Linked DNA regions of Homo sapiens: regions 1, 2, 4 and 5 are each linked to region 3. Evidence: fine-mapped expression QTL. A gene starts in region 3. Each other region holds a variant in brackets. All regions are shown on one strand. Distances are between the middles of the regions.

What was found.
Region 1: its variant is fine-mapped to the expression of C1orf115 in whole blood (TOPMed, PIP above 0.99).
Region 2: its variant is fine-mapped to the expression of C1orf115 in atrial appendage (GTEx, PIP above 0.99).
Region 4: its variant is fine-mapped to the expression of C1orf115 in whole blood (INTERVAL, PIP above 0.99).
Region 5: its variant is fine-mapped to the expression of C1orf115 in lymphoblastoid cells (GTEx, PIP above 0.99).

The regions. Positions count from the first base shown.
Region 1 is chr1:220,730,725-220,735,830 of GRCh38, forward strand. No RefSeq gene overlaps it. Among named protein-coding and RNA genes, the nearest start is that of MTARC2, 15 kb to the right of the region's middle. The variant C/T (reference allele first, on the strand shown) is at 2,568.
Region 2 is chr1:220,795,235-220,800,340 of GRCh38, forward strand. MTARC1 (mitochondrial amidoxime reducing component 1) reads left to right here. Exons shown (of 7, transcript NM_022746.4): 3 at 1,409-1,571; 4 at 2,640-2,780. Among named protein-coding and RNA genes, the nearest start is that of MTARC1, 11 kb to the left of the region's middle. The variant G/T (reference allele first, on the strand shown) is at 2,472.
Region 3 is chr1:220,688,149-220,693,254 of GRCh38, forward strand. It overlaps C1orf115 (chromosome 1 open reading frame 115), which reads left to right and starts at 2,215. Exons shown (of 2, transcript NM_024709.5): 1 at 2,215-2,563. The coding sequence starts at 2,255. RefSeq lists a silencer at 2,046-2,285.
Region 4 is chr1:220,743,478-220,748,583 of GRCh38, forward strand. MTARC2 (mitochondrial amidoxime reducing component 2) reads left to right here and starts at 4,845. Exons shown (of 8, transcript NM_017898.5): 1 at 4,845-5,106. The coding sequence starts at 5,055. It overlaps LOC124904516 (a long non-coding RNA gene), which reads right to left. Exons shown (of 2, transcript XR_007066884.1): 1 at 4,342-5,106; 2 at 843-3,286. The variant T/C (reference allele first, on the strand shown) is at 2,134.
Region 5 is chr1:220,715,416-220,720,521 of GRCh38, forward strand. No RefSeq gene overlaps it. Among named protein-coding and RNA genes, the nearest start is that of C1orf115, 28 kb to the left of the region's middle. The variant G/A (reference allele first, on the strand shown) is at 2,660.

The DNA.
Region 1 (5,106 bases), 43 kb after region 3:
GTTGGAAGGAATCTAAAATGGTACAGTCACTGTAGAAAATCATTTGGTAGTTTTTCTTCAAAAAGTTAAACACAGAATTAGCACAGGACCCAATGAATCCACTCCAATATAGACCCATGAGTACTGAAAATATGTTATCTTACAAGAATTAGCCAGGTGTGGTGGTGTGTGCCTGTAGACCCAGCTACTCAGGAGGCTGAGCTGGAAGGACTGCTTGAGCCCAGGAGGTCAAGGCTGCAGTGAATTGTGATTGTGCCACTGCACTCCAGCCTGGGCAACAGAACAAGGCCTGACTCAAAAAAAAAAAAAGAAAAGAAAAGAAAATATGTACATGAGTGTTCATAGTAGTATTATTAATAACAGCCAGAACAAAGTTCATCAACTGATGACTAGATAAACAAAATGTGGCCTATCCATATGATGAAATATTATTCAGCTATAAAAAGGAATGTTCTGTTGTTATATGCTGTATGCTCAGGGATGAAACATGGAAACATTATGCTAAATAAAAGAAGTCAAACACAAAAAGCCACATATTGTGTCATTCCATTTATATGAAATGTCCAGAATAGGCAAATCCTCAGAGACAGAAAGCAAATTAGTGGTTGCCAGGGGATAAGGGGAGCAGAGCTGGGACTGACTGCTATAGGTATGAGGTTTCCTTCTGTGGTGATAGAAATATTCTGGAATGAGAAGTGATCGTTGCATAATAGGGTGAATATACTACAAAACAATGGAATGTTGATATGGTTTTGTTGTGTCCCCACGCAAATCTCATCTTGAATTATAGCTCCCATAATTCCCACGTGTTGTGGGAGGGACTCGGTGGGAGATAATCGAATCATGGGGGCAGTTTTCCCCATACTGTTCTTGTGGTAGTGAATAAGTCTCACAAGATCTGATGGTTTTATAGGGGGTTTCCCCTTTTGCTTGGCTCTCACTCTGTCTTGCCTGCTGTCATGTAAGATGTGCCTTTCACCTTCCGCCATGTTTGTGAGGCCTCTCCAGCCACATGGAACTGTGAGTCCCTCAATCCTCTTCTTCTTTATAAATTACCCAGTCTAGGGTATGTCTTTATCAGCAGCATGAAAATGGACAAATACAATTGTACACTTTAAAATGGTACATTTTATGTTTTGTGAGTTGTATCTTAATTTTAAAAAAGACCATAACAATGCTTACAACCTACATGCTGTAGAGTAGATCATACTTACGTCATTATTTTCTGGTCATACTTAGGAAAGAGTAAAGACTGTCACAGAATAAATGAATGAATGGACGAATCAATTGATGAACTGATGAATAAGTAGAATGAAAGGGAGCCTGGGAAACAGAGGTCTTTTGTGACTAAACATGGGTGAGGAGACACTTCGTATAATTTTTTTCTTGGGCGAGTAGTAGAACACAGAGAGGTTGGAGGGAAACACTAGCAGGACTTGACTTTACAGGGAATTTGTTTTGGAAAGGATGTCCCCAAGCAAGGAGATTCTCTTCCCTTCCCAAAACACTGTATCCTGCCATAGCCTTCTTCCACTCTGAGTGGGGCACGTGCTGCCAAGATGAAAAGCAAATCTCCCTGTAGCAGCCAAAGAAAACAAACACAGAAAAAAAGCAAATGAAAACTGGGAGAGGAAGCAGGATTCTGCATCCTGGTTGATAACATCGTCAAAATCAAAGCCACAAAGACACACAGTCAGGGCCACTGATAGAGCTTAGGGGCCATCCAGGGCAGGGTTGACCAGAGGTGAGAAGGTCCCCGGACCCTCAGTGTCATCAGCCCAAGCCCCCATAATTTTGTAACTAATATTGATGGAATAACAGGGCCCTTCCCATATACAGGTTAAGACCCAACAGATGCCTCGGGTAATTTATTTACTTAACAAATACAAACTGAGATTGACTGTGCCTGAGATACACAGGGAGAGGCACAAGTCCCAGCCAAGGAAGGGCATCTTCTAGGTAGGAAGTTTCCTGGGACTGATCTCTCAACTTATTTCTTCTGGCCTGTCCCTTCCTCTCGCCACATATTCTTGGCACCCTGTCCTTCTCCAGGGCCTTTCCCCCTCCTCCTCCTCCCCTAAAAAGGAAAGTGTGAGGAAGCAGCCATGGGACCTCCCCTTTCTGGCTGGGTAGGCGCTCCTAGGTGAGACGAGGAACTCTGAGTGGCTCGGCTATTGCAGGAGCAAGTGCCTTCTCCTACTTCGGACATGGGATTGCTGTGAGGACCGAATAGCCTTCTGCTTCCGACAGAGTTTTATAGACTGCAAAGTATTATTCAAATGGCAGGGAAAATAGAAAAGTGTGGCATTGTTTCTCCCACACTTTTCTATGACTTCTGACATTTCAAATATAGTATTCCTCCTATTTCAAAATACTCTTAGTCCCGACTCTTCACTGAGTTGGGTAACAGGAGGTTGTTCCTTAGGACTTACTCACCAGAAAGGAAAGGAGGGTTTCCTTTCACTTCCGGTTAGAACCAGCTTCAAGCATTTCCTCCCCACCCTTCCGTCCAAAACCCTGATCACAGCGCCCCCTCGTGTAAATCCGGAGCAACTGCCCGGGAAATC[C/T]CCCGTCTAACCCGGGCCAAAGTCAAAAGCTGAAGGAGGGGGTCCGGTTGAACTCTGGGTGGGCGGGAACTGGGGCTCCTACAGGGCGGTGATGCCTACAGGGGACAGGCTCCAGTCAGGTCCGTTTGCTTCTCATTATGCTGAATATAGACCTCATATTGCCAGATATTTTGATTTTAAAAGACAAGCTAGACACTTCCCGATTAAAACAACTGTGTAAGCCAAATAAAACAAGCTATGGGCCAGGCTGTGGGGGGGCTGCAAACCGTCAGGAAGCTTTGATTTCTTGTGGAAAAGATGAAACATTGATGATAGTTAATCCCAACACATTGACAAGGAGCGATCCTGGTAACAGAAGATATCTTATATGATATATAAAAATCACAACTGTGAACATATTTGACAAGGAGAAAAAAAGAACAAACATTCTTAACATACTTGCTTCTGAGTTTTCCCATCTATATTTGCTGGCTATATACTGATTTTCTTAACTTCCTATATTAACCAGAATAAAACCAGAAAGTTTCAGTAAAAATTATGGGGAAAAAAACTCAAAATAGAAAAAGAAATTCCCATTAATTTTTTTCCCCACTATTTGGAGATAAAATCCATTTTCCTAAAGGTACATATTCACCAACTTCCAGAATGCCAATGCCCATGAAGGGTTTTTTGAGCTTTCTGGGGTAGAAATTCATAGTTCTTAAGACAACAGGCAAAGCCTGCACAATTTGTTCTCATCCCGACTGTTAGCCTCACCTCCTGTCATTCCCTTTGCTGGTCCGATCATCATACGAAACTATTTTCCTCCAAAAACATTTCTTTTTTTTTTTGGAAAATTGTATTTCTCGTTGATTAATTGCTTTTACTCTCTTTTCCATTTTTGAAGCTCCTATGCATGCGTTCTTCGTATCCCAGTTTACATGTTACCTCCCACTAACCTTCAAGCAGAATAAGCTGCCCAGCCCACAACATGCACTTTCAAAGCTCTAAGCCCATATCTTTAGGAAAACAATTACTATTTTTCTTATAATTATTTGTTTACACATGTTTTGATATTGGGAATCTACCTAAAGCTGTGTTGTGTCACCGATGAGCCATAAAACTTTAAAAATATCTAGTAGATTGTAGGCTGATAGGGAATATTTGCTGTTTCGCTCTCCCAGAGCCTAGTACACCACCAGAATCATTGCATTGGATTTTTAAATAATTTTATTTTTGAATTTTTTGAACAAGTAATACTTTTCACAGTTCAAAATTCAAAAAGCTTAAGTATACAAATGAAAACTTTCCATTATATTCATGTTTCCAGCCACCCAGTTTCTCTTCTTATTGGTACATGATGTTACTCACTTATGTGGAATGAAGTCCACATTCCTCTGCGTGCAGTATAATTTTTTCTACCATCTGTGCTTGTTTACCTTCCTAGTACACTCCTCTCTCCTGGCCTTTGCTCTCTACTTTCCAGCCAGGATTGAAGTGGCTATTTCCCGATATGCTACCTTAGCGATTTACTGGCTTCTCAAGATCAGACACTCTATCTTCCTCTATCATTATTAAAGACTACATACTAGCATCTAGCGTATAGCAGGGCGTGAATGAAAGTTGCTCACGCTTGGACAACAACTGACCCTTGTGCTTGTTCTCCTGGAGCCCTTTTGAGCTCTTAGCCGCCTCAGATGTTGTTCTGGGACACACGTTTGGCCGTTGAGGCATTACTTCCCTGGGTATCCTGATGACAACCCCCAAACCTAACCTAATCTGAATGTGTGTCTTCTCCTTGCAATCTAAAGAGGTGCCCGACTAATACACAAGTAACTCTCCCTGAGCTGAGCTGGTTTGTTCTCCCAGGTCAAATCCTCACAGGGAGGAAGAGAAACTTGTGGGCATGCAGAGATGTTAGTCACTATGAATGGATAAAACGGCACAGGGATACATATTATACATGTGTATAATATGTATAAATGTTTATATTTATATAATATGTAAGATATAATTTATAGTATGTATTATATGTAAATATGTATATATGTAAATATATACTATAAATTATGTATATTCTAAATATATATTTATAATTAATAATTAATTATACTATATAACTATGTACTTATATAATATATTTCTATTAAATAAATGTAAATATATAATATATATTTATATTAAATAAATAGAAATATATTACATATAAATCTATATGTATATAAGTGTGTGTATATATATTTTTTGTTACAAGGCCCTAAAGGCCCTAAACAAGGCTACATTGATTTTTAAAAATTAACATTGTACTTACTAATGTTTCAAGTTAAAAAATATTCTTTAACTTTGAAGATCACTATACATAGCTTATCATTTCATTCTCCCCCTTCCTTCCTTCCTTTCTTGTTTTCAATCACTTTTTTAAGGGGACTTTTGTTTTTGACACAGTCTTGCTTTGTCACCCAGGCTGGAGTGCAGTGGCATGATTATAGCTCACTAAAGCCTCAAACTCCTGTTTTTATTTTAATTTTTAATTTTTGTGGGTACATAGTAGGTGTATGTT
Region 2 (5,106 bases), 110 kb after region 3:
ACGGATTGTTCCTAATCCTCACAACAAAGTTCTGCTTCTACCCCCATTTTATTGATGAAGAAACTGAGTCTCAGAATAAGAAACTATCACCAAGGCCATGGAGCTAGTCATTTGTGGAAATGGAATGCTCACCCAAGTAGATTTACTTGATCCACTAAGCTTTCTCAAACTTCCAGCATTTGCATAACACCACGATGATAGTAGGCCAAACCATAAACCACCTGTACTCTTGTTTACTTAATATTTCTCTTTAAATTGATTCAGCTTATAAACTAATCTTAAACACATTTATTTAAAAAAGAAACTTTATGTAGTTACCTATATAATTTGCCAAGTATACGGCTTTGTATGGCTACCTATATAATTTATATATATGGGTTTATATATAAATTTATGTGGCTACCTATAAACCTTATATGGCTACCTGTATACAAACTTTATATGGCTACCTATATAATTTGCCAGAAAGTAACCAACACTCAATATGCTAAAACATTACTAAATTCTAGCTAGAAGCTGTTGCCTACAGAGGTCTCTGGACCTAAGGTGTGTTCTTTCTTTGTTAAAAGAGGAGATTATCAAGTGTTGCTAAAAGGTAAAGATTTATTACCACTAAACTGAAATTTCTCTCTGTGCAATTCACTGTTATTTAATGCTATACCCAGGTGCCATCTACAGTTATCTTGAATGCCAGCAGTGGTAATGGTCTTGCATTTTGTGAAACACTGGCCTACACCATAGCATTTATTTTCCTCTCCATAGCTGTGAAATTCATATAACGCCAAACAGCCCTGCACAGGACTATGTGCTGGGGAGTGGGAACTTCAAATCCTACAAAGTTATAACTTGCAATCAAATCCAGTAGATTATTATTGTTATTATTAAATAAATATAATATTATTGTTAATGATTGTTATATATATAGTTATTATCTGTAATGTTTTAGGCTTTATAGAACATTTTCATATTGTTGCTGTACTATACTGGCAAAGCATAGCCAGGCCTGTGAATAAAGATTTCTGGTCGCTATTCAGCTGGGTGAACTAGATTTTGCAGTAATTCTAAGTTTACTTTATACTGATACATTAGTTTTCTTCTGGAGAACTCAGTACATTTTTAAATATATTATTTCATTTCATCCTCCCTGCATTCCTTCCAGGTAGGGAGACACAGTTGTACAAAACTTGATTTTTAAAATGAGGAAAGCAATGCTTAAAGGGGTGCTTTCATTTTCATTTGGCCTTACACAGGTTTGGAGTCAGGACCAGGACTAAAATTACATCTTCTGATAATTAAGAAATGACAGTAATGTTACAGCTAGGAGCAGCTTTTCTGATATAGCTGGCACATATTAGGGTGCATGGATTTTCAAAGCCATGTCTGCCCTTTGCTCCTGCTACCCCTGCAGAGTGCACGGCCTGGAGATAGAGGGCAGGGACTGTGGCGAGGCCACCGCCCAGTGGATAACCAGCTTCCTGAAGTCACAGCCCTACCGCCTGGTGCACTTCGAGCCTCACATGCGACCGAGACGTCCTCATCAAATAGCAGACTTGTTCCGACCCAAGGACCAGGTGAGAGGTTCTGCTGCCTCCATGGGTAGAAAGCAGTCACCCCCAGATCAGGGGGCTCAGGTGGCATCTCTGATGACCTCGGCTCTGTTGTTTTCTGGGGCAGCCCTCTGGTAGCTCAGATCACAAGCAGTAGGCAGAAATAAAGCCCTTCCCTTGGAAGCATTGTTTGTTTCTTTGTTTGGGGGACTCTTGAATTTTTGCCCTTGAGCATCTACCTTCCTATTTGTGTAAGCATTCTGATGCCAGTAGGGTTTCAAAACTGTTCTGCACCAGTGTCTTTTTTTCATTCCATTCTGTAATTGCACATGGAGTCCAGAATTTTTACAGTTTGCAGTTGTATGTCAGATTCCAATTGTGCAAGTTGGCATGGGTATGGAGATACACAGACTCAAATGATCAGCCTTAATGGCATAAAGCTCTAAGGATTCATCATAAAAGCAGGGTTTGTAGTACCATATACTGCTTTTACCATGGCCATAAAAAAAATAAATTATGCTGTAGTCCTTACTGCTAAGGAGGCTGAGGTGGGAGGATTGCTTGAGTCCAGAGAGTTGAGGCTGCAGTGATCTGTGATGGCACCATTGCACTACAGCCCAGGTGACAAGGAGTCTCTGTCTCAAAATATATAAATAAAGAAACAAGCAAATGCATAAATTATGGTCAACATAAATATTAATTTGTAAGTTGCATAAAATAAGTATTCATGGAATTAGTGAACATTTAAATCAAACATAATGAGGTCATCAAACTCAACCACCTTATTAAACATTTGAGAAATGGGAGGCTTAGAAAGGTTCAGTGATGTCCCCAAGGGCACATGCCTTGTGGCAGCTTAGGATTGATTCTGAGTCCTTGTTCCCTTCATTCCACCATGCAGTTTCTGCTATCTGCAAGGCTATT[G/T]AAAACTTCTGAGTCACTGTGACTTCTATTAAAAGAACAAGAGAACTACTTTGAAAGATTGTGTGTGGGGTGGGGTGGAGCATGGAGGCTATGTCTAGGAACTAGGCACACCTAACCACTGAAAAGTTGGTGTGCCATGTGTTATAACAATGTCTATTTCCTTATCAGATTGCTTACTCAGACACCAGCCCATTCTTGATCCTTTCTGAGGCGTCGCTGGCGGATCTCAACTCCAGGCTAGAGAAGAAAGTTAAAGCAACCAACTTCAGGCCCAATATTGTAATTTCAGGATGCGATGTCTATGCAGAGGTAACACTATGCCCCTTTGGATCTTTCCTTGGATTTGACTTCTTTTTTAAGGTATGAGAGTCTTTGACATTGGATTAGATTATTCTGAAGGGTGCATTATTTATCAACTCTGTAATACATAACAATTTGATTTTTAGATTTATTCAGCACTTAATAAGTGCAGACTTCTGTGTGGAGGATACAAATGTTGATGGGTCAGAGACTGTCATCAAGGAGGCAGTTCAGTATCTAAGGCTTCTAAGGAGAATTCTGAGTTGACAGGTTCGTTGTTGAGTCACATTTTCTTGCATAGACTACATGATCTGTGTGGGCCATGGAACAAAGAAAGTGTGTGCTCCTGTCTTGTTAAAGGATGGTCTTACTGTTTAGTAGACGGCTCTCTTGGAGAAGACAGGCATTTACTGCAAGGCTGCTGGGTGAGGGTTGGGAGAGGTTGTTGCCCCTAAGCTTCATGGCACTACCCTGAAATGCTTGCAGTGCCACCTTCCATCTGCCCTCAGATGTTTGCGTGGTGACTTAGCTTGAACAGCCCTGAGGCTTGGTTTCTGGGATTCCACAGGATTCTGGCAGCAAATTTACCTTTGTAATAAATGGCCTTTGGCTATTTAACTTGATTCTCTCCCTGGGCTTCCATGAAGGCAGAGGTTGGTGGCCTAGAGGCATGGTGAGTGGCCACCAGCTGTGGATACTCAACAGAAACCCTGACCCACAGCTAGGAATTCAGGAGCTCTGGTTGTGCCTCAAATTTATGTTGAGAAGGGAGAGGTAAAGGGGACCATATAGTGGTTCTTACGTCTGCCCATTTCCTCCATAACAGGGAAAAATGGAATCAAAGCAATTGAGTTTTAACCTTTTATCCTCAGAGGAGCCAATTATATTCTTCACTTTTGCTGTACGGAGGCAAAACTATGCTGAAAGAGAAATAATCTAAGAATTTGATTCCCACATTCAAACCAGAAGATGTGACGGCTGGTTTCAGCTTCTGCACTGGCTTCTGCATGACTTTGAGCAGCCCCGCTAAGTCCCATTTACCTTGCCTGAACAATGAGATGATCATATTTCTGCCTAGGGTTACCTTAAGGGTCTGTTGAAGGGTCAGTTTGGATAATGTAATTTATGAGATGTATAAAAGCAATATCAATCGATGGAGGATAATAAAAGTACGCCCAAATCCACTGCTAATGCTTCATATAAAATACTCATTGCTCCAAACTTCCAAGGGTAGCGTTTCTTCTAAAGATGGTGGAGAACTTCCTAGTGTGAGGCGGGTGGACTGTGTGCATGTCCCCCAAGGTCCTGGGTTGGGCATCTCTCAGTGCTTCTTTGTGACAAGAAATTTCTGCCTGTCCTGCTCCTGTGCACCATGGGCCAGCCTGACTTAGACAACAGGAAAATAATCAGTGTTTGGTTGCCTTTGACCATCTCCTTGATATTCATCTTCCACCAGCTATGGCTAGGAGAGCCATTTCTCCTGAGAACGTTCCTTCTCAGGAAAAGAGAAATGAGTGGGGAGGGTTTTGAATGAATACTTGTGTTGCGCTTAAGTATGTTGTCTCTTCTATGCCTCACGGCAGCCCAGCGGGATAAAGCTATCATTCCTATCTTACAGGAGAGAAGAGAGAGGCTTGGGGAGGTGAGGTGGCCTGCCCTAGGCTATACCACAGCAAGGAGGGGCTGGGTTTTGAACCCCAATTGTACAAGGCCAGAGGAACCCTGAGAATTCTAGGGCATATGTATGGGGCTGGGACAGCTGGATTCTAATCCACCTGCTTCCGCAAGTGACCGTACAAGCCTGGACAGGTCACCAAACTCGCCGAGGCATCTGCTTCTTGCAGTTGTAAAACACGGGCAGTTTCAATGACTCCCTCGCCTGATGGGAGCTGTGAGAATCAAGGTCGATGACAATTTGTGGAAAAGTTCTAGGACATTAAGTACCACAGGGAGGTAAGGAAGAGTTTCATTCCTGGGAGTTTGGCTCAGGTACCAGCTTTTTCCCTATGATCGACTTTAAGCTTTCTTTCTCCCCTGTGTGATTTGTGCACCGAGGGTCATGCTGAAGCCATTTCCACCCCAAAATTCTGTGACAGTAAGATTCGGATGACAGGAGAAGAGGAGATGGCCCAGAGTAGAACTTCAGATCTCGGAGATTTCTTTCAATTGAGTCTTACTCTAAAAACCCGTATCTCTCTCTCTATCTCTGAGTGTTCCCTAGTTGAGAACATTCTGTATGTGAAGCTGGGCGGTAACACAATGGTGGCTGAGCCGGCCTTGTTTTTAGTAATTCACCCATCATCGAGTGGGTTGCTGCCCCTGTGTGGCATGCGCT
Region 3 (5,106 bases):
TAGAACCAAACTATATCACCATTTGATAAGCAGCCTAGGGTTCTTTGAGGTCGGTTTTGTACAAAAAAAAAAGGGACTACAAGGGTCTCTGTTTGTTTATAAAGTAATAGTTGCTTTAGCAAAATTACAAATCTACAAATCTACTTTCTCTTAACCTTTTAAATTCAAATTACATACTGTTTTAAACTATTTACTCACCCGATAAAATTTTACAATTACTGTAAGGAGGCACTTTTACTGTTTAGTTAATTCTCCTAAACATTTCAAGCAACTTTTACAAATTTAATATTTGACTTTCTTTTCAAGTACTTCAATTCTATAACAAAACTCTAAGTAATTCTTATAAATATAGTAAGTTAAATTCATTTTCATACCCATTTCACCTGAAATTGAATTGTACATAAATTTTATATACTATTTTACATATAAAGACTCTATGTTTTTAAGATTAAATATAAGTCATTACTTATTACCTTATTACATAAGTTAAATAAAAGCGTAAATCAATTAGCTGATTACTTTTTTTTTTTTTTTTGAGACAGAGTCTCACTCTGTTGCCCAGGCTGGAGTGCCGTGGCACGATCTCCGCTCACTGCAACCTCTGCCTCTTGGGTTTAAGCGATTCTCCTCCTCAGCCTGCCGAATAGCTGAGACTACAGGAGCACGCCACCATGCCTGGCTAATTTTTGTATTTTTAGTAGAGACAGGGTTTCACTATATTGGCCAGGCTGGTCTCGAACTCCTGACCTCAGGTGATCCACCGCCTTGGTCTCCCAAAGTGTTGGGATTACAGGTGTGAGTCACCGCACCGAGCCACACATTTTCACTTTTTTAGAAATGGGGCCTACGTTGCTCAGAACTCCTAGCCTCAAGGGATCCTCCCACCACAGCCTGTGGAGTTGCTGGGATTACAGGTGAAAGTCACCATGCTGGCTCACATTTTAAGTTGGAATCACAAAACTAATTTCTTTTGCATCCTAGTGAACTAAATTGTCGTAAACATTGTATGTGCTTATACCAACATATACACGTTATTCTTAAATTTAATCACAAACTTTAATGTTAAAATATCAGTGTATCTAACAATCTATGTTATTTTATACCTAAGTATTTTTTTGAGATGGGATCTCACTCTGTCGACCCCTTTGGAGCGCAGTGGCACAATCATAGCTCACTGCAATCTCCACCTTCCAGGATCAAGCGATCTCCCTACCTCACTGGGACTACAGGTAAACTTTTGTATTTGTTTTTCTATTTCTAGAGATGAGGTCTCCCTGTGTTGCCCAGGCTAGTCTCAAACTCCCAGGCCCAAGCGATCCTCCTGAATAGCTGGGATCACAGGTGTGCGCCCCTACGCCTGGCTAATTTTTTTTTTTTTTTCTAGAGATGGAGGTCTCACTATGTTGCCCAGGCTGTTCCCCAACTCCTGGGCTGAAGCTATCCTCCCGGCCTCTCAAAGTGCTGGGATTACAGGCGTGAGCCACTGCTTTCGGCCCTTAATTCTACATTAGCCAGAATTCAAAGGCATTTACCCACTTAAGAAAATAGGGCACTCTCAGCTTGTTGAGATTCACAGTACACTGATAATGCTTATCTCACAGAGAGATATTCCTGAAAATCATGATTTTAAAGACTGCGCCATATGCTGGCATGTCTGCACCAGAATTTCCTTTGCGCCTCCCTGTTGGTTTGCTCCACTTTTTCACTGAGTCAGACCGTTGAACACCGTGGACACACTGTCTTGCGTTTCCGAATATTTCCTAGAATACGGACGTTTCCTAAGACTCACGATAAAGATTTTCTGATCGTCTCTCCAAAACCTTGCCACCAATTTGCACTCCCACGAATCCTGTTACCGTGACTATCTCGCCATGCCCTCCCTAGCACTGAGCGTGATCTCTAGTATCATTTTCCATCGTTGCTAATTTGAACATGAGCAGATGGAGTCCTATTATTTGGGGTCATTAATTTCGTAGCAAGTGCAGTTGAAGGTGTTTTGCATGTTCATTGTGCAGTGCGCGCCGTAGTCTGCACAGTTTGGCCGGCAGGTGGGATGAAGGGCGGGGCTGGCGGAGCGCGCCCGCCGCCTGGTAGGCCAGTTCGGAGCGGAGCCAACGCTATCCCGGGCCCCACGGCCAGGGGGCGCTGCGGCCCCCCCAATCCCCCGCCCCGTCCGGGCTGGGGCGGAGGAGCGGGCGGGGACCAAAGGTTGGTGTCTTTGCGCTCGGACCTTCGCCAGAGGGGCCGGGACATCATGACGGTGGGAGCCAGGCTCCGAAGCAAGGCGGAGAGCAGCCTCCTGCGCCGCGGGCCCCGAGGGCGAGGGCGAACCGAGGGGGACGAGGAGGCGGCCGCCATCCTGGAGCACCTGGAGTACGCGGACGAGGCGGAGGCGGCGGCCGAGAGCGGGACGAGCGCGGCGGACGAGCGGGGCCCGGGGACCCGGGGCGCGCGGAGGGTGCACTTCGCCCTCCTGCCCGAGCGCTACGAGCCACTGGAGGAGCCGGCGCCGAGCGAGCAGCCCAGGAAGAGGTACCGGAGGAAGCTGAAGAAGTACGGCAAGGTAGGGGCCCTGCGCCACCACTGCCCGGGGGGCGCGGGTGTGGTGTCCCGCGGGGGAGCGGGAGCCGGGTCCTTACCATCGACTCACCCAGTTTCTCCGGGCTGCACCTGCGACCCCTCCGCCCCCGCTCCCATTCCCTCGCCGGAGGGAAGCCGCGAGTTGCGAGTCGTGATAGAAACTTAAATCGGGGGTTGCGCTGGGTGGTCCCTGCTGTGCCTGCTATTGCGCTCCTGGCTTCTTAAGAACATTCTCAAGGGGCTCCTACCGCGGTGGTTTTTATGTAAGATCAGGAATCAGTTTCCTGATTACAGATGGGAATACTGAAGCGTTAGCGCGGCAGGTGACTTGGAGAAGGTGGCCCAGTTGGAAAGAAAGAAATTGCAACCCAGTGTATTTGTTTTCCAGTAACATCCCCTCCAGGATATCCCACTAGTTGAGAAATGTTTGGGTTACTCTCCCAAATATTCCCAAGGTTATTTCCCGAGCCTGGGAGCGCAACAAATACATAAATAGGCGCTCGTTGAATTTTTCTCGTCTAGCCAACTATCAGTGTACTCTGGGGCCTTCAAAACATTCTGCCGTTTGTCTCGGGGAGATGGGGTTAGGAAGAATGAATATGGGAGAAAATGACAGTTTCCTTCGCGGAAATCAAAGCGCAGATGCAGTTCCCAGGTGTCTCTGCATGGAAACAGTCGAAGCTGCTGCCGGAAGCTCTGCTGGCCTGGACAAGGCCACCCAGAATAAAGTCACAGAAGTTACTGTGTCCTGGCCAAAGGCCACGGGCCCCATCTGATTTATTGTCTATTTATCTGTGTTGCCCAATGCCGTCTTACACCTGAAGCCATTCAGTCTCCATGCCTGGGAGCTTAGGTTTATCATCCTCTTTAAAGGTATGTCAGCAGCTTCTGGAGCAGAATACAGGCAGGGGTAAAACTATAAAGTTGGGTCTTTCAGGCTTAGAGCCCTGCTAGGACGATTCATCTCTGCTTTGGGTCCCAGTTGAGCACAAAGAAGCCATCATGTCCCTCTCCATTGGTGAACTGATACTGCAGAAACCTCAGCTCAAGGACTAGGACTTGAAGATATTTTGGGGGCACTCATTATGCGTCAGGCATTGTGCTGAGCAGTAGAGATGCGAAAATGAATACAGTGCAGCCCTGCCCTAGAGAAGGGCACAGCCTCCCAGGGAGACACTGACATAGCTGGCTCCCCCCGCCCCCGGGGGGGCTTCAGGGCACAGAGCTCAGGCAGTTCACTCCTCAGCGGTGAGCTTGTAAACTCAGGGAAGTTTTCAAATCACGGTGACATGAAAACTGGGCACAGAAGGATGAGTTAAGATTTCACCAGATAACAGTGAAGTGGTATGAAGTAGGCACACTTCATCCCCACTAGAACGGCTACTCCAAAAAATGTCCAAACAAACCGAATAACAAATGTTGGCGAGAATGTAGAGAAATTGGAACCATTGTACATTGCTGGTGGGAATGTAAAATGGGACAGCTGCTGTGGAAAACAATTTGGGAGTTCCTTAAAAAGTTCAGTGTAGACTTATTCTGTGATCTAGCAGTTCCACTCCTAGGGATGTAACCAAAGAATTGAAAACAGGTACTCAAATCAATGTTTATATACACATTTTAATGGAATTATTATTTACAATAGTCAAAAGGTGGAAACAACCCAAATGTCCCTAAATGGATGAATGCATAAACAAGTGTGTTATATACATACAATGGAATAGTATTCAGCCATAAAAGGAAGGAAATGTACTAATCCATGCTACAATATGATGAACCTCTAAAAATATTATGCTAAGTGAAGTAAACAAGACCCGCAAGATCACATATTGTGCGTATGATTCCATTTGTATGGAATGCTTAGGATAGGTCAACCCATGGAGATGGAACACAGATTGGTGGTTGCCAGGGACTGCGGGAAAGAGGAATGGAGCCCATCTGCTTAATGGGTAATGTGTTTTTTCCTGGGGATGATGAAAATGTTTTGGAACTAGATAGAAGTGGTGGTTGCACAACAATGTAAATGTACTAAATGCCACCGGGCTGTACGCACTTTAAAATGGTGAATTTTATGTTATGTGAATTTTGCCTTAACTAAAACAAACAAAAAAAACAAGATTTCAGTGGATAGAGAAGTGGTGTCATCTCAGGTAGAGGGGCCATCACAAGCCCAGCTGTGGGCATGAAAGCTCTAGAGTGTTGCACGCTAGTTCAATGGACCCAGGAGGCCAGGTGAGAGGATGTCGTCAGGTTAGGGTTGGATCTCTCCTTTCTGCCCTTCAAAAGTGACTTCAGCTTCTACTTTCTTGGAGCCACCTGAGAGGGTCACCAGGCTCAAACATGGAGATATAAAGCAGGTGACCCCTCTTTGTTCCCCGAGACCCCAGCTCCCCTCTGAGAGAGTAGTTGGGTAGAAAGCTCTACTCAGATCAAAGAATTCCAAATGCACTCTCTTAAATGACACTGAAATAGTGGTTGAGAGATATTTTATGTTTCTTTGCATTTCATTTCTCAAATCTGTGTTTTTAA
Region 4 (5,106 bases), 55 kb after region 3:
CCTTCCATGGGTGTCAGCTGAGTTCTGCCCATATTGCTTACTGCTGTGATAGGAAAGCACTGAGTTCCAATGCAAAGTTCCACAATCGCTGTGCTCTTCCTCCCCCAAGAGCACAGACTCTCTCTTGGCCACTGCCAGGAGACTGGGGAGGGTGGTACTGGCAATTCAAGACTATCTTTCCTACCCTCTTCAGTGCCCCTTTCAGTGATACGAAGTTAAAACCAGGTACTTTGATTGCTCACCTGATTTTTGGTTCTTATAAAGGTACTTTGTAGTATAGATAGTTGTTAAATTGGTGTCTCTGCATGGAGGATGATCTATAGAGGCTGCTAATCAGACATCTTGCTCTGTCCCTGCCACTTGGTTTTATGTGTTCAAGGGAAAGTAGGTGAGAGATCCAATGCCATCTTCCTTTCAAAGCTGAAGGTGCTGACTATCAAGCTTGAGTTTCTAATCTGGTGCTTTCAGCCCTGGTCATGTGGCTGGATTTTCATAGTCACTAGGGCATTTTGACTTCCTAGCCATGGTTCTTCTTCCACTATATATATATGCTTAATATCCATTCAAACTCCTGAGTTTAAGCGGCTCTTCTGCCTCAGTGTCCAAAGTAGCTAGTATTACAAGCATGCACCACCATGCCTGCCTCATTCTCTCTTTTTCTGTTGTTTTAAATTTTTTGTAGAAACAGGGTCTCATTATGTTGCCCAGGCTGGTCTTGAACTCTTGGGCTCAAGTGATCCTCCTGCCTCAGTCGCCCAAAGCACTAGGATTACAGGTGTGTGCCACTGGGCCTGGCCTAAGGGGACCTTTGATTAATGTTTGGCCTGCATCAAACTGGGATGTAAGTGAGAAATAAACTTTTATTTTGTTAGAGCATTGAGATGTTGAGGTTGTTACAATATTTTAGCCTAGCCTGCGTCATGAGATTTGTTATATGGGTTGAAGGTTGACTATCCTCACTGCCTGATAATCTGATGTGCTCATCTCCCCAGGAAAGACAAACTGCTACATGGCCCTGATGAATACTTCCATTGGCTGCTGGGTACTCACCTTCCTGAAGAGGACCTGGCTAAGCAAGGTAATATTTGGGTTTTAGGCTTCTTTTTTTCTCTGGTTTCTTGGTTGATATTTTAATTGACAGAGTTTTCTTTATCTATGTCAGTGCCTCTAGGCAGACAATGATGTCTTATTCACTAGAAAGATTTTTCCTAAGCAGAAGTTGCCAAAATATGACAAACTAGGGGAAAAAGTTATGACTTGGGAAGGCATGATAAAAGGGTAATTTTCTTAATTTATAAAAGGATCTTATAAATTAACAAAAAAATAGATAAGTTGATTCAAATCAGAAGGGAAAAAAGATATGCAAACAGCCAATTAGACTCATGAATCCTCAACCTTTGATATGGTTTGGATCTGTGTCCCCAACCAAATCTCATGTTCAATTGCAACCCTCAGTGTTGGAGTTAAGGCCTGCTGGGAGGTGATTGGATCATGGGGCTGGTTTCTCATGGTTTAATACCATTCCCCTTGGTGCTATCATCCTGAGAGTGAGTTCTCATGAGATCTGGCTGTTTAAAAGCATGTGGAACCTCCCCCCTCTCTCTGGGTCCTGCTCCTATCATGTAAGACATCCACTGCTGCTTTGTCTTCCACCATGAGTAAAAGCTCCCTGAGGTCTCCCAGAAGCAGAAGCCGCCGTTCTTCCTGTACAGACTGCAGAACTATGAGCCAATTAAACATTTTTTCTTGATAAATGACCCAGCTTCAGGTATTTCATTATAGCAGTGTGAGAATGGACTAATACAGCCTCTCATCACCCCTCACTAATTCTACAAATGAAGATGCTGGGCTGCAAATGTACACATTACTGATAAGGAATTTCCCTGCTCCCCTGAAGGCACCCCCAACCCCAGCATTGGTGAAGCTTAAACAGGGCAGGCTATGATAGATAATGGCTGGTGAAGACAGCAAAGACTTGGCAGCACTCACCATGGCAAAGTTCCTCACTTGATGTCTATCCCCATCATTTTGCACATGAGGAGGTGGAAGCATGGAAAGGTCAAGTTACCCATCTATCTAGGTAACTATTTCTTCTTTGATGTCTCAAAGATACCTCTCACTCGCTGTTCACAA[T/C]AGGCTCATCATCTTTTTTCCCAGACTATCTTCTTCTCTTGAATTCTCTTTTTTTTTTTTTTGAGACGGAGTCTCTCTCTGTCGCCCAGGCTGGAGTGCAGTGGCGCGATCTCGGCTCACTGAAAGCTCCGCCTCCTGGGTTCACACCATTCTCCTGCCTCAGCCTCCCAAGTAGCTGGGACTACAGATGCCCACCACCATGCCTGGCTAATTTTTTGTATTTTTAGTAGAGACGGGGTTTCACTATGTGAGCCAGGATGGTCTCGATATCCTGACCTCCTGATCCGCCCACCTCGGCCTCCCAAAGTGCTGGGATTACAGGTGTGAGCCACTGTGCCCAGCTTCTCTTGAATTCTTAATCTCTGAGAATGGTACCCCCATCCCACCCCAGACTTTTATGCCACAGAGCCAGGAGGCCCCGTGGGCTCTTCCTCTCCCTCTGGCTCTGTGTTCTGTCATCACTATCTCTTGTTAATTCTGTCCCCTGACCATCTCTCCTAACCACATGTCTATCTCCAGCCCCACTGTTATTTTTCCTTGATTTGGAATTACATCAGCCTGAACTAGGGCATTTGCAACTCATCTAACCATCTTTGGTGTTACTCTTTCTCAGAGCAGCCAGAATGGCCTTCCTAGCACCCAAGTCTAATCATGCCAGACTGTTGTTCAGAATTCTGAGGTGTCTCCACATTAAGTAGAGATAAGATGCCTGTTGATCTGACCTCTGCCCACCTGTCCTGCCTCAACTCCCGCCACCTGCTGCATGCACAGGTACATCCTAATACAGCTGGATTGCTGGTGGTTGCCCAAACATGCCACACTCTCTTGTTCCTTCCATTTTTTCAGGCTATTGCACGTGCTGCTCCTTTTGCCCAGAATCCTCTCCTTTACCCATCTCCAAGCCCCTCCTCATGTTCAAGTCTCAGCTCCAAAGCTCCGCCCTCTGAAAACAGCACTGTCCTGAGATTCAGCTGCTCTTTTGCCTCTGCATCCTCTGCATCTTGACCTTGCTTCTCCTCTGACATTATCCTCTAGACTTGCAGGGGAGGTGTCAGTCTTCTGGGGAGTCAGTGAACTGGATGGAAGGGCAGCTTCTTCTAAACTTTAAATCCCCAGTGCCAATCTAGGACGAAGCCTGGTGAATGATCAATATCTATGTGGTGAAAGAAAGAGATGATTAATCAATAAGACATTTGCCCTGTCTGGGAGCTCACGTATAGCGAGGCGATGGCTTTGTAAGCCCCTCACTCTGACAGCAGGCTTGTGGGCAGGGAGGACTCTGACCCTCCTCAGGAGTTGGGAGAGGCAAAGGGGGTCAGCTACAAGTGTACACACATCACATTCACCACACCATGCTTAAAAAACAAATCCATAAGTCGCAGCTGCCAAGCATGATGTAAATGTATGGGGATTGAGGGACTAATTCTGCTGGCCTGAGGTTTTTTCCTGGGTGGGGAGAGATTCAGGCCCTGTTTTGTCTTTCACTTTTCACAAGGAACAGCCAAAGGGAACCTGGCTCCTCTGGTTCTCCATCCTTCCCGGAGTCTCTTCCCACACTCCAGAACGGGCCCCTTTCTCTGGAGGTGGCCAGCCCAGATTTGGGGGGTGGCCCACTGGTTGGCCTCCTTAAACTTTCCTAGAACTGTGCCACAGTTTAAGGGACAAACTTTTGAAAAACAGAACAACAACAAAAAACTTGAAAGACTTCAAACCTTAATTTGTCTGAGAAAATCCACTGTTAACCCAATAGCTTGCTTGAATGGAGGTGTTAAAGATCAACAAAGCCAGACATTAGTTAAACCATGAAAACAGATTTTACTCAGTAACTACTTACAGTAGGAGAAAAAGCTGATCATTCTCATTTGTGCATAGCAGAATGGGCGTTTTAAAGGGTGAAGGAGAGAATAGGGCCGGGAAGCTAGCAGGGGATCAAGTGAAAAATCATGAAGGGGCGGTCAGTATTAATGACGGGCAGCTGTGCCTGGAGCTGGCCGTTATGAAGCTGGGATTCTATCCTCCCACAGAGACTGGGGGACAGAGGCCTATCCTCCCCATGACTGCATTTCAGAGCAATGGCTTTCAGGTCCTTGAGAAAGACACTTCTGAGGTGTAGGCGATACATATACATCTCAAAGCAACAGAGAAAGGATTCACAGTTGTAAGCCCTTTTAAGAAAATATCCTAAAAAAGGGAGGTCAGGGGCTTTACCATCGGGTGTTGGCTAGAATAAACGGGGAATTCTCCTGGCTGCCTTGAGCTTTCTCGGGAAGACATTTTACTGGGGTCGAGGTTAGGCGGCAGCGGAGGGTGGGGGACCTTGAGTCATGCTCCTATAAGCCACGCTAGAGTTCCTCGTCTTTGAGTGCAGAGGTTTAGACTGTGTCTTTGTGTGCAGAAAGTCCTGCAGTTCTCACAGCGACCTGCCAGAAAAAGTCGTTCCCAAATGTTTGTAAATCCTCCGTTGGGCAACCCGCCTTCACGTTCTGCGGTGATCTTGTCGAGCGACTAAGCGTGCAGTATTAGCAGAGAAGGGGGTGGCAGAGTGCTGGCGCTGAAGGTCATGTTGCATGGGTAACTGTCGTGTTGTAGGGGCGGGGAAGAGGGAGGAGACACTGACCACCCCAGAGGCCGCCCCATTAGCTCGCTTGCTTTGGGCGGCGTCGCTCCCACGGCGCCCAGGGTACCCCCGCCGCTGTCTGCCTGTCTTCCTCCATTACCGCGCAGGCTTGGTCACCGCATTAAGGCATTCCCGCTCTCCGCGGAACTGCTCTGCCGTCTCGGCGGTGAAAGTGTGAGAGGGTCCGTAGTTGGGTCAACTTTGACTCCTCTCGCCTGCCCGGATCCTTAAGGGCCTCCTCGTCCTCCCGGTCTCCGGTCGCTGCCGGGTCTGTGCGCCGGTCCGCGCCCGCCCTCGCTCTGCCATGGGCGCTTCCAGCTCCTCCGCGCTGGCCCGCCTCGGCCTCCCAGCCCGGC
Region 5 (5,106 bases), 27 kb after region 3:
AATGGAATTGCTGGGTTATTGGCAACTCCATGTAGAACATTTTGGAAAAACTGCCAAATTTTTTTCCATAGTGGCTACATCATTTTACATTACCATCAGGAATGTATGAGGGTTCCAGTTTATCTACATCTTCACCAGCATTTATTGTTATCTTTTTTATTATAGCCATCTTAGTGGGTGTGAGGTGATATTTCACCATGGTTCAATTTTTGTTTCCCTAATGATTAATGATGTGGATTGTCTTTTCTTATGCATGTTGGTCATTTATGTATCTTCTTGGAGTACTACCTATTCAAATGCTTTGTTTTAAAATTGAGTTACTTTTTCTGATTGTTGAGTTGTAGCAGTTCTTTATATATTCTGCATACAAGTCCCTTATATAATAAGATCTATAATGTGCCAATATTGTCTTCTACTCTGTGGGGTGTCCTTTCAATTTCTTGATGGTGTCCTTTGAAGTACAAAAGTTTTTAATTTTGATTTGTGAACTCCAAATATCTGAGAGGGTCTCAGTTAATTTAGAAAGTTTATTTACAAAGTTTGTTTTGCCAGTGTTGAGGATGCATGCCCATGATATAACCACACAAAGTCCTGATGACATGTGCGCACGGTGGACTCATGGAGAGCTAAAATGTCCGTGAATATCAAGCAAAACAGGAATTAACTGCATGGACTGTACTCATCTTTTTGACTTATTGCTTAAAACATTGCTGATCCTTTGTTTTGTTTTTCGGAGTCTTGAAACTTTTCTTTTGAGCTATTGACAGCTTTTAACAATTGAGTACACTCCTATGAACAAAATTTGGAGCATATTTGTTTCTCTCTACCTGATTTCTGAAGAATTTGGAAACTATTTGTGAGTATTCTTAACTTACGACAATACAGTTATTTGCATAAGTGCAATAAGAATCTGTTCTCATTTGTAAGAGGACACAATTGGAGAAACTGGTTATTTTACCAAGGCTTTGACTGGAATGGCATGCTTTCCTTAAGGAATAAAACCTGACTTATGCAGCCAATAAAAGCCCTTGGGAAAACTGGCCTCATACTTTGTCTACAGAGTCCCTGTACAGGGTTTCTGACCTGTCGTTAGTAAAGAATGTCACCTTCTGACAGGCCCAGGAGCCCTAGGTTTATCTTGGAACCTCAAGAGGAGAGGTAATTCACCCAACTCATAGGTATTTGGTGGTGGCACAAATCCATCGCGGGGTTCGGCTTTAAAAATGTCTTGATATTTCTTCTATGGAACAAAGTTTCATCAAAGCCAATTTTAAAAAGCCTATGTGAAAAATAATTATTCTTGCTGTACTTTATACAAATAATCTGGACAGGTAAAATAAAGCAGGTTGGTCCTACCATGATTTGTCTTTAGTGAAAATGGGAAACTGGAGAGAGAGAAAAAATATGTTTCAAAAACTATAGTACACTTGTTGTTAGATTCTAGTCTTGCCTAATGTTTTTCAATTTTTATTATTTTCTACAGTTTGGGCTGAACTCTAATTTTTCCTGGCTACAAGTCTACAAAATAACATTTTCAATATTTTTTTTCTTTCTTTTCTTTTTTTCCCCAATTTTTCCTAATTTGAAATCACTGAAAACTAAGCTGTGTTTCTTAAAGCCCTGCAAACTGAAGCTAGACAACTTAAACTTCAGAAGAAAATAACAGCATCCCATTTACATACATAAGCCACTTTCCAGGATCATTCTTTTGTTTGCTGTTGTTTTTCTCCCTTCCTCCCCTTATTTTCTCTTTATAGGACATGAGACTTCATAACCTGCTAAAAATGAACTTTTGGGACCTACCTGTCTAGGAATAAACCATCCTTGCCATGAGAGATCAGATGAAACCTGAAATCAGAGACTCATTTTCTTCTAAAATACTTTCTCTAAAAGATTTTAAAAAAGAATAGGGGGGAAGTGTGAAAGGAAAATCTTGGGGCCCCCAAATTACTGAACTAAAGGTAAAAGTCAAGCTGGGAACTGGTCAGGGCAAACTTGCTTCCCATTCTATTCAAAGTCATCCCTCTGCTCACTGAGATAGATGCGTATGTGATTGCCTCCTTTGGAAACGCTTATCAGAAATTCAGAAGGATGTAACCCTTTGTCTCCCACCTCCCTGTGACCTGGAAGCCCCCTTCCTTGCTTCGAGTTGTCCCCGTCTTTCCGGATGGAACCAATACACTTTTTACATATATTGATTGATGCCTCGTATCTCCCTAAAATGTATAAAACCAAGCTGTGCCCCTTTTTCCACTGTTCTGATGTCACAATCTCCAAAGTTATTAGAAACCTGCATTCAAGGGCACCAGTTATAGCTGATTATAAAACAACTGTCTAAACAGTACCAAAGCAAGAGAACAATTGTCTGTGGATGACAAAATGTTTTAGGGCCACCATAGTCAAAGACACAATTGGCAAGAAAGTTTGTTACCTTTGTGGCACATAATAATTTTAACGTGACAATTATGATTATTACTGATAATGTACACTTAGTCATATCAGAATTACAGGAGTTGCCCATAATTTTGGAACACATACAAATAACATATTTACACAAATATGGCCCAAAGAAAACCAAACACTGTTTCATACTGAGGGAAGAGAGAGACCCTCTCCTATTGTTTGATATTGTTTTACACTCAGAAAAGGAAAGAGAAGC[G/A]AAACTAAAGGCAGGTAGCCTGGCGCCTAGGAACCAGACCCAAAACCAAGGAACCAGATCTGAAACCAGGCCTGGGCCTGCCTGACCTAAGCTGGGTAGTTAAAGATCGACACCTGACCTAGCAACTGTTGTTATCTATAGATTCCAGACACAGTATGGAAGGACGTTGTGAAACCTCCCGTTCTGTTCTGTTTCACTCTGACCACTGGTGCTTGCAGCCCCTGTCACGCAGCCCCCGGCTTGCTCAATTGATCACGACCCTCTCACGTGGACCTCCTTAGAGTTGTGAGCCCTTAAAAGGGACAGAAGTTGAGCACCTGACGAGCTCGGATTTTAAGACGCTAGTCTGCCGATACTCCCAGCTGATTAAAGCCATTCCCTTCAGTGTCTCGGTGTCTGAGGGGTTTTTTCCATGGCTGGTCCTGCTACATTTCTTGGTTCTCTGACCAGGAAGCGAGGTGATTAATGGACGGTCAAGGCAGCTCCTTAGGCAGCTTTAGCCTGCCCTGTGGAACATCCCTGAGGGGGACTCCAACCAGCCGGAGCGACACGGATCCTGAGAGTGCTCCCGGGTAGGCATTTGCCCCGGTGGGACACCTCACCAGAGCAGTGTGTGGCACGCCCCTGTGGAGGATCAACGCAGTGGCTGAACACCGGGAAGGAACTGGCGCTTGGAGTCTGGATATCTGAAACTTGGTAAGACTAGTCTTTGGAACTTGCCCACTCCATTTGAGTGGAAGCATGGCCTGATCACCCATGGTGTGCCTTTATCAGCACTTTGGTATTGGTTTTGACTTGGTTTGAATTGCTTGATAGGACTGGTCTTCGGAACTTGCCCACTCCATTTGAGTGGAAGTGTGGCCTGATCACCCACGGTGTGCCTGTACCGGCACTTTGGTTTTTGTTTTTGACTTGACTTAGGTTGCTTGATACTTTGGTTCTGGTTTTGACCTGGCCTGGATTTCTGGATACTCTGATTTTGGTTTTGATTTTGGTTTGGTGTAAACCGCAAAAGTGTGTGTGTGCCCTTTTTACCTGTTCTTTGTTTTGTGGTGTATGTGTGGTGTGAGTGTGGTGTTTTGTCTTGAAGAAGCATGGGTCAGGCACAAATAAGCCCACCCCGCTAGGAACTATGTCGAAAAAATTCAAGAAAAGATTTAAGGGAGATTACGGTGTTACTATGACACCAGGAAAACTTAGAACTTTGTGTGAAATAGACTGGCCAGCATTAGAGGTGTGTTGGCCATCAGAAGGAAGCCTGGACAGGTCCCTTGTTTCAAAGGTATGGCACAAGGTAACCTGCAAGGCAGGGCAACCAGACCAGTTTCCGTACAGAGACACTTAGTTACAGCTGGTTTTAGACCCCCTTTCCCAAAACAGTAGTTAAGTGAACAGCAGCATAAGCGGCTGGCAGAGGCAAGGAAAGACCAGCAGAGAGAAAGAGAGGAAAGAGACAGAGAGAAAAAGAGGCAAAGAGAGAGAGGAAGAGACAGAGAGACAAAGAAGGAGTCAAGAAAAGAGAGAGGCAGAGAGAGAGGCAGAAAGAGAGGAAGAGACAGAGGCAAAAGGAAAGTCAAAGAGAGAGAGAGAGAGAGAGAAAGTCAAAGAAAGAAAGAAAAAGAGAAAGAGAAATATACAAGTAGTTAAGAAAAAAACAGTATACCCTATTCCTTTAAAAGCCAAGGTAAATTTAAAACCTATAATTGATAATTAAAGGTATTCTCCATAACCCTGTAACACTCTAATACCACTTTGTTGTCAGTGTAAACAAGGGCATATCCCGAAAGCACTGAGGTCTTCCTATCAAAAATCCTTAATCCAGTAACCCGTGGATGGCCCAGATGCCTTCAATCTGTAGCGGCAGCTGCTTTGCTAACGGGAAAAAAAAGGGCCATCTATACTAATTCTAAGTTAATTTAGACTAAACGAGGTCTTATTAATAGCAAAGGATAACTGAAATCCCAAACTTACAAGGTTTTCAACAAAAGTAAAGTTTGCTAAAGTTAACAGTGTAACATGTATTACAGTAACTTCTAATCTTGTGGCCGTAGACAATCTAGTCCACAGACATAAAGAAAGTTCGCTTTAAAAAAAAAAAAAAGAATGGTTATCTTCAAAAAAAGAAAAAAGGAAAAAAAGGGGGAGGCAGAATTTACATAAAAGAGTGTTATATGGTAAATTCTTGTCCTGAAATAAATTAACTGGTTGTTTAAAGAAAGAAATGTTTATAATAAGTCAGAAAGTTGAGACATGTCGAAGAATTGTCTGTGAAAGTCATGAAAGAAAAAAGGTTATAAAAAAATTTTATGCAAAAAATGTTGTATAATTTAAAAAGCAATAAGGCCTCCTGAGTAGTATTGAAGAAACAGTTTTATGTGCAAGGTGTATAAGAAAAGTAAAATATACCTTTGGTAAAAGGAATATAAGGAGGCATAAGAATGTGGATT